3 linked regions of the Homo sapiens genome follow. The protein of the gene in region 3 interacts with the protein of the main gene of each other region in a pairwise test. Each region holds a gene or a part of one and is shown on either strand. Other genes may lie near its edges. The genes, in order: RASAL3, FAIM and CDR2L.

What was found.
Region 1: the proteins of CDR2L (region 3) and RASAL3 interact in binary tests that used the Homo sapiens proteins (3 or more experiments, as listed by UniProt).
Region 2: the proteins of CDR2L (region 3) and FAIM interact in binary tests that used the Homo sapiens proteins (3 or more experiments, as listed by UniProt).

Annotation. Positions count from the first base shown.
Region 1 is NC_000019.10:15,462,641-15,466,389, forward strand, and holds the start of RASAL3 (RAS protein activator like-3), read right to left. Parts: upstream 1,905-3,749; 5' UTR 1,865-1,904; intron 1,738-1,864; 5' UTR 1,719-1,737; coding exon 1,391-1,718; intron 1-1,390. UniProt on the Homo sapiens protein: Functions as a Ras GTPase-activating protein. Plays an important role in the expansion and functions of natural killer T (NKT) cells in the liver by negatively regulating RAS activity and the down-stream ERK signaling pathway.
Region 2 is NC_000003.12:138,611,634-138,615,382, forward strand, and holds part of FAIM (fas apoptotic inhibitory molecule 1), read left to right. Parts: intron 1-3,749. UniProt on the Homo sapiens protein: Plays a role as an inducible effector molecule that mediates Fas resistance produced by surface Ig engagement in B cells.
Region 3 is NC_000017.11:74,990,542-74,994,290, forward strand, and holds part of CDR2L (cerebellar degeneration-related protein 2-like), read left to right. Parts: intron 1-3,749.

The sequences.
Region 1 (3,749 bases), on a different chromosome or scaffold from region 3:
AACGGATCACTTAAAATATGTTGGGCCTGGGGCCGGGCGCGGTGGCTCACGCCTGTAATCCCAGCACTTTGGGAGGCTGAGGCGGGCGGATCATGAGGTCAGGAGATCGAGACCATTCTGGTTAACACAGTGAAACCCTGTCTCTACTAGAAATACAACAATTAGCTGGGCATGGTGGCGGGTTCCTGTAGTCCCAGCTGCTCAGGAGGCTGAGGCAGGAGAATGGCGTGAACCCAGGAGGCGGAGCTTGCGGTGAGCCGAGATCGCGCCACTGCACTCCAGCCTGGGCAACAGAGCGAGACTCCATCTCAAAAAAAAAATAAAAAAAATGCTGGGCCCTAGGCTAGTGTTACATTCCTGAGCCCTAATTCTTGTGATATCCATTACTCTTCTAGATCCCCCTGTGTGACACTTAGCACCATCTGTCATTTTTTTTCTTTCTTTTTTTTTTTTTTCTTCCATTGAGATGGAGTCTCCCTCTGTCGCCCAGGCGGGAGTGCAGTAGTGCAATCTCAGCTCACTGCAACCTCCACCTCCCGGGTTCAAGCGATTATCCTGCCTCAGCCTCCTGAGTAGCTGGGAGTACAGGTATGTGCCACCATGCCTAGATACTTTTTTTTTTTTGTATTTTTAGTAGAAACAGGGTTTTGCCATGTTGGCCAGGCTGGTCTCGAACTCCTGAGCTCAGGTGATCCACCCACCTTGGCCTCCCAAAGTGCTGGGATTACAGGTGTGAGCCATCATGCCTGGCCCATCTGTCATTTTCTTGTTGATGGATTTCCTGTCAATTCCACTACACTGTGAGCTCCATGGGGCAGGGAGGGTCATCTGTCTCTTTCACTAGTGTGTCCTCAGTGCCTAAATCAGGGCCTGGCACATACAATAGAAGCTCAACAAACCTCTGCTTGAATAAATGAATGAATATGAGCAAATAAAATTATATACTCTCCAAAATGGAGATCATTATTCTCACTGAACTGATGGAGAGGCTGAGGCTTAAGGGCTCAGAACAAAGACACGGAAGCTAGAAGGTAGGAGAGTAGGAGGCAGGCTGAAGATGGATATCCAGGTAGGAAAGGATGGGCCTGAGCCATTGAAGGAGAGACCCGTTGGGGCCAAGAGCCGTTTAGCCTCTGGACAATACTATCACGGGTTTACATTCACTGTTCCTTCCTCAGATGGACCCTCTGCCCACAGGACCCCGGCAACTCCTCCTACCCTCTTTAGGGGGAAAGAGGGAACAGGGTAGCTGGGCCCCAGCGGCTTCCTGCTGGGCTTTTGCACTCCCCACAACTTCCTGTGTCTGTATGGTTGATGCTCCGGAGGCAGACAAAACCCAAGCATCCGGCTTCCCAGCCCGGCCCAAGCTCAGGGTGGGGGAACCATGTACCTGGGGCCTCCTGCTCCGGCTCCGGGTCTGGCTCCGGCGGTGGGTTCTTATGCCTCCCCCAGAGGGCCTTGGAGAGTCGAAGGCGACTGGTCCGTGACTCCTTGGGAGGCGCAGATAGGACCCGACGGAATATCGAGCGAGGGGCTGGCTGGGTGCTGACCATGGGCTCCTGGTGGCTCAGGGCCCTGCCCCAGCCAGCAAAGCGGCCCCAGCGGAACCCTCCAGCCGCCTTCTCCCCACCGCCCCCTGTGTGCCAGCGGTAGGAAGTCAGCGGAGAGGTGGCTGTGGGCTGGGTTTGGGAGGTCCGGCTTGGCGACGGTGGGTCCATGGTTGGGGGGGGGGGTCTCCTGGGGGACGAGAGAGTGACAGTAGTGCCCAGTGTCTGTCCACATACTGCCCTCATCTCGGCCCCCTCCCCACCCTCAGCTCTGCCTCCAGGAATCCCCCTGCCCCCACCTCCACTCCCTCCCTTACCTTGGTTTCCTGACCAGCCCCAGAATCAGCAGCCGTCTGCACCCCGCCTGGCTTCCTCCCTCGGAACCCAACTCCACGTGACCCTCTCTGTCCCACCCCACCCCACAGCCAGGCTGGGAGGGCACAGTGCGGGCAGGTTGCTGGAGGTTCGAGGGAGGAGAAGAGAGGAGGTGGGTTACCAGGCTTCTAGCAAGAAGGACCCAGACTGCCTCCCTGACGGGGAGGCAGCACTTGCCCCTCTCTCTGAGCCTCCGTTGCCTTCTCTGCAAAATGAGTACAGGCTGAACAAATGCTGGCGAGAATACAAAGCACCTAGAACTCTAATCCACAGTTGGCCGGAGTGTAGACCCATTCACTCATGTTGGGAAACGGTTTGGCAGGATCTACTAACACTACTAGCTGGATCTTCTCTGACTCAGCAATTCCATTGCTAGGTAGACGTCCAATAGATATGCCCCCCCAGCACAATGCATAATAGCCCCACATTGGAAGCAGCCTAAGTACCCATTAGTGGGAGAAGGAATAAATTGTGATCTCTTCGCACAGCAGAATATCATACAGCAGTGAGAACAAACTAAAGAATGATTTAACTTGGGTGAATCACAAACAATGTTGAGCCAAAACCAAAACCAAAGCCATAAAATGCCAGTAATCTGAGCTATTCAGGAGGCTGAGGGAGGAGGATCGCTTGAGGCCAGGAGTTCGAGGCTGCAGTGAGCTGTGATCATGCCTGTGAATAGGCAGTGCACTCCAGTCTGGGTGACATAGGGAGACCTCATATCTAACTTTTTTTTTTCTTTTTCCCCTCCCTGCCCTCGGGAGACCCCATCTCTAAAAAGCAATAATAAATAAATTTAAAAACCCCAAAACAATGAAGAGTATACACTTTGTGATTCCATTTACATAAAGTCCTAAAGCAGGCAAAACCATGTCTAACAAGCAGGGTATCAGTTTCTTTTGGAGGCACTGGTGGCTGGGAAGAGGGTACAAGGGGGGCTTCTGGAAGATGGCAAGATTTATTATTACTCTTATTATTATTAATTGATTTATTTATCGAGAAGGAGTTTCGCTCTGTCTCCCAGGCTGGTGTGCAGTGGCACGATCTTGGCTCACTGCAATCTCTGCCTCCCGGATTCAAGTGATTCTCCCTACTCAGCCTCCTGAGTAGCTGGGACTACAGGTATTCACCACCATGCCTGCCTAATTTTTTTGTATTTTTAGTAGAGACGGGGTTTCACCATGTTGGTCAGGCTGGTCTTGAACTCCTGACCTGAAATGATCTGCCCGCCTTGGCCTCCCAAAGTGCTGGTATTATAGGCGTAAGCCACCGTGCCCGGCCCTTATTATTATTATTATTTATAAATGAGGTCTATAAAAATAATATAGATCTCATAAAATAAAAATATAATATTTATATTACATAGTAATATAAATAATATTACATTATACATAATATGAATATTATTATTTTTTGTAGATGAGGTCTGTCATCCAGGCTGGAGTGCAGTGGTGCCATCATAGCTCTCTGTAACCTCTAACTCCTGGGCTCAAGAGATCCTCTCGCCTTAGCCTCCTGAGTAGCTGGGACTACAGCTGCATGCCACCACACCTGGCTTATTAAAAACAATTTTTTTGTTGTTGTTGAGATGAGGGTCTTGCTTTGTTGCCCAGGCTGTTCTTGAACTCCTGGCCTCAAGTGATCCTCCCACCTCAGCCCCCTAAGTAGCTGGGATAATAGGCACATGCTACCATGCCTGGCCTATTTTTTTTTTAATTGAGGTAAAATTCATATAACACAAATTTAGCATGTTCTTTTTTTTTTAATAAGATTTTTTTTTGAGACAGGGTCTTGCTCTGTTGGCCAAGCTGGAGTGCAGTGGCACAA
Region 2 (3,749 bases), on a different chromosome or scaffold from region 3:
GGTGTTTGGGTCATGGGGGCTGATCCCCAGTGAATACATTAATGCCCTCCCTTGGAGGTGAATGGGTTTTTGCTCTATCAGTTCTCACTAGAGCTGTTTGATAAAAAGAGCTTGTACCTCCCCGCTGTCTCTCCTGCTTTCTCTCTGGTCACATGCTCTCTACACAGCCAGCTCTCCTTTGCCTTCTGCCATGAGTAGAAGCAACTTGAGGCCCTCACCAAATGCAGATGCCCAATCTTGAGCTTCTCCAGACATCAGAATCATGAGCTAAATAAACCTTTTTTCTTTATAAATTATGCAACCTCGGGTATTCCTTTGTAGCAGCATGAAAGAGACTGAGACTTCTCATTGTTCCCTTCCCCCATTCCCAGGGAACATCTAATCTGCTTTCTGCCTCTACGAATGTCCCTTTTCTGGGTATTTTATATAAGTGGAATCATATTTGTCATTTTTTGTCTGGCTATTTTTTTTTTTTTTTTTTTTTTGAGACGGAGTCTCGCTCTGTCACCCAGGCTGGAGTGCAGTGGTGCGATCTCAGCTCACTGCAAGCTCCGCCTCCCGGGTTCACGCCATTCTCCTGCCTCGGCCTCTTGAGTAGCTGGGACTACAGGCGCCCGCCACCACGCCTGGCTAATTTTTTTGTAGTTTTAGTAGAGACGGGGTTTCACCGTGTTAGCCAGGATGGTCTCGAACTCCTGACCTCGTGATCCGCCCGCCTCGGCCTCCCAAAGTGCTGGGATTACAGGCGTGAGTCACCGCGCCCGGCCTTGTCTGGCTATTTCACTTAGCATAAAGTTTTCATAGTTCATCCATGTTATAGCATATGTCAGAATATCACTCCTTATTTTGGCTGAATGAAAAGGAATATCCTTTGTATATATATGCATTTTATCACTTCTCAGCCTTTTGGCCGAGATCAAGTGTATGTACCGCGTTTTGTTTATTCTTATGTTGATGGACAACTTGGGTTGTTTTCATCTTTTGGCTATTGGAAAATGCTACAATGAACAATAGTATACAGGTGTCTGAGTGGCTGATTTCAAAACTTTTTGAGTGCATTCCTAGCAGCAGAATTGCTAGGTCATATAGTAATTCTCTGTTTAGGTTTTGAGGAACTGTCATATCATTTTGTATGACAACTTCACCATTTTACAGTCCCACTAGCAATGTACAAGGATTCCAGTTTTTCCACATCCTTGCCAACACTGATTATTTTCTGTTTATTTTTAGTATAGCCATCCTAGTAGATGTGAAGTTGTATTTCATTGTTGTTTTGATTTGCATTTCTGTCGTGATTAATGTTGTTTAGCATCTTTTCATGTGCTTATTGACCATTTGTATGTCTTCTTTAGAATAATGTCTGTGGAAGTCCTTTGCCTTTTTTTTTTTTTTTTCCTGGAAACAGGCTTTTGCTCTTGTTGCCCAGGCTGGAGTGCAATGGCATGATCTTGGTTTACTGCAGCCTCCGCCTCCTGGGTTCAAGCGATTCTCCTGCCTCAGCCTCCCGAGTAGCTAGCTGGGATTACAGGTGCCTGCCACCACACTCGGCTAATTTTTTGTATTTTTAGTAGAAATGGGGTTTCACCATGTTGGCCAGGCTGGTCTCGGACTCCTGACCTCAGGTGATCCACCCGCCTCAGCCTCCCAAATTGCTGGGATTACAGGTGTGAGCCACTGCGCCCGGCCCCTTTCCCATTTTTAAATTGGGTTGTCTTTTGTGTTTATGAGCAGTAGAGTTCTTTATATATTCAGAATATGAAACCTCTATCAGATATATGATTTCCAAATATTTTCTCTCATCCTTGTCCTTTCACTTTCTAGATAATGTCCTTTGATGCACAAAAATTTTAGTTTGTTTTTGTTTTTTTGAGACAGGGTCTATTCTGTTGCCAAGGGTGGAGTGCAGTGGTGCAATCACAGCTCACCTGCAGCCTTGACCTCTCAGGCTTAAGTGATCCTCCCACTTCAGCCTCCCATGTAGCTGGGACTACAGGCATGCACCACCATGCCTGGCTAGTTTTTAAATTTTTTTGTAGAGATGGGGTCTCCCTATGTTGCCCAGGCTGGTCTTGAACTCCTGGGCTCAAGCAATCCTCCCACCTTGGCCTCCCAAATTGCTGGGAATGCGGGTGTGAGCCACCACACCCAGTCAGTTTTAACTTTTGATGAAGTTCAATTTATCTATTTTTTTCTTTTGCTGCTATCCTTTTGGTGTCCTATCTAAGAATCCATTGCCAAATCCAAGATCATGAGGATTTACCTCTATGTTTTCTTCTAAGAGTTTTGTGGTTTTAGCTCTTACATTTAGATCATTGAGATAACTTTTGTATATGGTGTGAGATAGGTGAGGTTCAACTTAATTCTCTTGTGTATGAAAATCTAGTTTTCCCCATAACATCTGTTGAAGAGACTATTCTTTCCCCACCAGTTAGAGTTGGCACCCTTGTCAAAAATCATTTGGCCACAGATATGTGGATTTATTTCTGAACTCTCAAATTCTTTAAGGACAGAAACATTTTCTTCAGGCTGGGCATGGTGGCTTATGCCTGTAATCCCAGCACTTTGGGTGGCCGAGGTGGGAGGATCACTTGAGTTCAGGAGTTTGAGACCAGCTGGGGCAACATGGTGAAACCTCATCTTCACAAAAAATTACAAAATTAGCTGGGTGTTGTGGCACATGCCTATGGTCCCAGCTACTAAGGAGGCTGAGGTGGGAGGATTGTTTGAGCCCAGGAGGTCGAGGCTGCAGTGAATTGAGATCGCACCACTGCACTCCAGCCTGGATGACTAGAGTGAGACCCTATCTCAAAAAACAAAAAAAAAGAAGGATTTTCTTCAAATTTCTGACAGCGTCTAGTACAGTATCTCTTGATAGCAGGTTCAAATGTTGAATGGAAAAACTGAAGCCTGGACATTTATCATAAGAAAACTTTTGTTGTGAAGGTACATCTCCCCTTGAGAAAACAAATAGAGCATAGCTGCTGCAAATCATACAAAACCATAGAAAAATTTAAAAGACATGTACGACCAGGTGCGGTGACTCATGCCTGTAATCTCAGCACCTTGGGAGGCCAAGTCAGGTGGATTACTTGAGCCCACAAATTCAAGACCAGCCTAGGTAACATGGTGAAACCTCATATCTACCATAAATACAAAAATGAGCCGGGTGTGGTGGTGTGTACCTGTAGTCCCAGCTACTTTGGAGGCTAAGGTGGGAGGATCCTTTGGGCCCAGGAGGTTGAGGCTGCAGTGAGCATTGAATATACCATTGCACTCCAGCCTGGGCAGCAGAACAAGACCCTGTCTCAAAACAAAAACAAAAACATGTACAGATGCTTCTTGACTTGTGATGGGGTTATATCCCAATAAACCCATTGCAAGTTGAAAATATTATAAGTTGAAAATGGATTTAGTACACCTAACCTATCAAACATCATGTCTTAGCCTTGCCTACCTTAAGTGTCCTCAGAATACTTACCTTAGCCCACATTTGGGCAAAATCATCTAACACAAAGCCTATGTTACAATGAAGTCTTGGCTGTCTCCTGTAATTTTTTGTACTGTAGTGAAAGTGAATGGTTGTATGGGTACTCAAAGTATGGTTCCTACCAAACACGTATCTCTTTTGCACCATCTTAAAGTCGGAAAATCATTAAGTCAAACCATTATAAGCCGGGGACCATCTGTATTTGACTTTGGAGTGCTTTCAGAACATTTGGTGGGCATTTAACTATTTGTTGAGTTAATGG
Region 3 (3,749 bases):
ACAGCAGAGACTTAGAAAGGTTTATGCCAAGGCCCTTTTGAGCTGGAGGCTCCCCAGGAGAGGGAGGGAAGAAGGCATTCCAGGGGGAAGCGATGCTTGTACCAAGTCATGGAGCGACATGAGAAGGCTGGAAAATAGGGAGGGAGGGGCTGAAGGAAGCATCAGACACGGGTTCTGTGGGGCATTCCCGTGGGCCCTGCCCGCCCTGTGCCCCAGGGGCCAGGCATGGAGAGCTGGATGGTGGGACGGAGCACGGGCCAAAGGCCAGCCATATTGGGTGTCAAAGGCCTGTTGCATCTCCCAACCCACAAATTCTCTTCCACCCAGCTGCTCCCTGGTTGCCTGTGAGTGGCCCAGAAATGGTTTTCTCAGCCAGCCACCTGGTCTTCCCTCCTGTCTGTTTCCTCCTGCCCAAAGGGCAGGCCCTGATTCCACTTTCCAGAAGCTTGACTGTAGAGATCCTGTTTGGCTTTGATGCTCTGTCCTGGTGGAAAGCAGCCGTGGGACAAGTGAGGTCCTAGATTCTCGCTGTGTTCCCTCTGCCCACTGCCACGAGCATTTATAAAAATAGAAAAAGCCAGCTGGGCACAGCAGCTCACACCTGTAATCCCAGCACTTTGGGAGGCCAAGGCGGGCGGATCACCTGAGGTCGGGAGTTCGAGACTAGCCTGACCAACATGGAGAAACCCCGTCTCTACTAAAAATACAAAATTAGCCAGGCGTGGTGGCACATGCCTGTAATCCCAGCTACTCAGGAGGCTGAGCCAGGAGAATCTCTTGAACCCAGGAGGCAGAGGTTGCAGTGAGCTGAGATAGCTAGCGCCATTGCACTCCAGCCTGGGCAACAAGAGCAAACTCTGTCTTTAAAAAAAAAAAAAAAAAAAGCCTAGAAAGAGCCGGGCACGGTGGCTCACGCCTGTAATCCCAGCACTTTGGGAGGCCGAGGCGGATGGATCACAACATCAGGAGATCGAAACCATCCTGGCTAACACAGTGAAACCCCGTCTCTACTAAAAATACAAAAAATTAGCCGGGCGCGGTGGCGGGCGCCTGTAGTCCCAGCTACTCGGGAGGCTGATGCAGGAGAATGGTGTGAACCCGGGAGGCAGAGCTTGCAGTGAGCCAAGATCGCGCCACTGCACTCCAGCCTGGGCGACAGAGTGAGACTCTGTCTCAAAAAAAGAAAAAAAGAAAGAAAAAGCCATTAATTATTAAGCACTGGCACTCCCTCTTTCGGCCCACATTCCTCCCCTACCTTGGACCAGGCGTGGCAGGCCCTGTGCGTTCCTCTTTCCAGGCTGAGAGGCAGCTGCTGAGTCACAGATTTGAAGTCCTTGGTACCCGTGCTGTCCCCGCCTGCCTAGCTGACCTTGAGTCCTCAGCCTCAGGAGAGCTCTGACCTGGCAACGGGAGGGAGGTCCTGCCTCCACCCTGGTTACCCCAAAGGTGACCTGACCCTGATTCTGTGGACCCAGAGTGGCTGACAGTCGTGCCCTGGAGCTGAGAACAGGACCTCACAGCCCTGCCAGGTGGTACTTGTGTCCACAGCCTGGAGCCCACACCCCTACCTTTGTCCTCCCTGAAAATGTCCCCTCTCCCTTTGCTGAGTCTCTGCTCTGGAATCTGTGGTGCCCGAGCCAGTGAGGGACAGTGGGATTTCTAAGTTTCTTTTCAAAGACAGGCCCTGGGTTCCCCAGACATTCCTCCTCAGGCCTCTGGGGCATTGCTTCATGTAAAACCACTAAAACCTCCTGAAGGAGACCCCAGAAAACCCTGGGGTCCAGGCAGGGGAGGTGCCAACCCAGACTTAATGTTGTTTTTTTTTTTTCTTTTGACCTGCACAGTTCAAACCCATAGCCCAGACTTAGTACCTTCCCTCAGCTTGGTCCGGTGTGTCCCATTCATCCAGCTGTGACAGGTTGTTACTCCACTTTCACTTCCTGTCTAGCCAGCTCCCCCATTCTCCCGTTCCCAGGCCTCTCTCCTCTGAGCCTGGAGCCATCACCCACCCTCTGGTAGCTGGTGTCTTCTCCCTAGTACTTGGCTCCACTCAGTTCCCTGCTCTGCAACTTCTAGACTATTCCCTGATCCCTCCTGGCAGCTTTGACCAGCTTAGCTTGCGCTGTGATCCAGTTTCCCTAAAATGATCTGAGACCTGCCTCTCTGCCCCCAAACAGCTTCTATTGTGTTTCTCTTTCTACCTGTCCCTGAATCACTAGGTGGCCCAAGTCGATTCACTGCCTTCAAAGGGCAACCTTTGATGTCTCTGGTTTATAGGGTGGTATACCACCCTGGCCTGCCAGCATTAGAAATCTACACACAGCCCAGACACTAACCTGGAAGTGGGGGGTATGATGTTGCACTGCACTTGGCCTTTCTTCACTCACCTCTGATGCAGTGGCTTTGCACTCTAGTTAAGCTGCAGGGGCTCCATGAAGGCCACTTACTTGGAGCATGTCCTCCGACACCCACGGCAGGAGGTAGAATCAGTAGCAATGGCCTCTTTGCAGACCATGTAACAGTTTCCAAGGGGGAAAACATTTAGGAGAGTAGCCCTCTGATCTCTTTCATGTATATCTGAACTGCTGGATACTGTTCAGGATGAGCTAAATTTGAGTCCCACTATGGAAAACAGGAAGATAGCATGGCTGTCTCATCACAAACTGAAGGTGATCTTGCCCGGCTCCTGAGTCCTGAGTTACTGCCATGCGCACAATATAGTACAGGGCTGTAGTTCAATCTTTTTTTTTTTTCAAGACAGAGTCTTGGTCCATCGCCCAGGCTGGAGTTCAGTGGCACAATCTTGGCTCACTGCAACCTCCGCCTCCCAGGTTCAGGCAATTCTCCTGCCTCAGCCTTCTGAGTAGCTGAGATTACAGGTAAGCACCAGCACGCCCAGCTAATTAATTTTTTTGTAGAGACAGGGGTCTCACTATGTTGCCCAGTGCAATGATCTTTACATCAAACTTTACAATTTGTAGATACCTCCAGACTTTTGCCCAACTGACAGGTCATAAATTCATACAGCATATATCCGCATTCCCTTACTAGGTTTATGTTATGTAACTAGTTTTTTCTTGGCATCCTCATCAGAAGGTTAATTGCTCAAGGCTAAAAGTTCTTACCTATGATTTACATGATTTGGTTTCTTTGTTGTTGTTGTTGTTTTCAATGGCTGAGGAAGATGTTTGGGAAAGCTGCCTTTGTTTTTTCAGGCTAAGTTACTGCAGCCTTGCTCTAGGATAGCAGCTTTGCACTCCTTCTCCAGATGACACAGGGCCCTCCTTTGGCTAAAACCCAGCCCTGGAGGCTCCACTTTGGCTGTTTCAAAACCTCACCTCTGTGCACAGGATCAGACTCCGGATTTGTTCCTGTGGGGCAGTTCAGCCTTTATGTCCAGGCCCAGTGGCTGGTCTGGCCCCTCTGCCTCTCACAAGGCAATGTCAGTTCTGCCCCCAGCTTGGCTGAAGGCCCAAGGCTCTGCCCTCAGCTGCCCACCAAGAGTCACTGCTTGCCTGGGCTCATCCCAAAGGAAAACTTCCACCCCAGGTCTAGGTTTCTTTTCAAAGACATCCCTTGGGCTCCCCAGCTATTATTTCTCAGGCCTCTGTCCAATGCATAGCAAGGGCTCAGCCGAAACAACCGTATCTAGGAAACTTTCTGTCCGGGAGTATAGAGCCTATCCGTCCTCCAGAGACCCTAGAACTATCACTATGTCTAAAAAGGGAAAGCAGTAGAGAACTGGATCC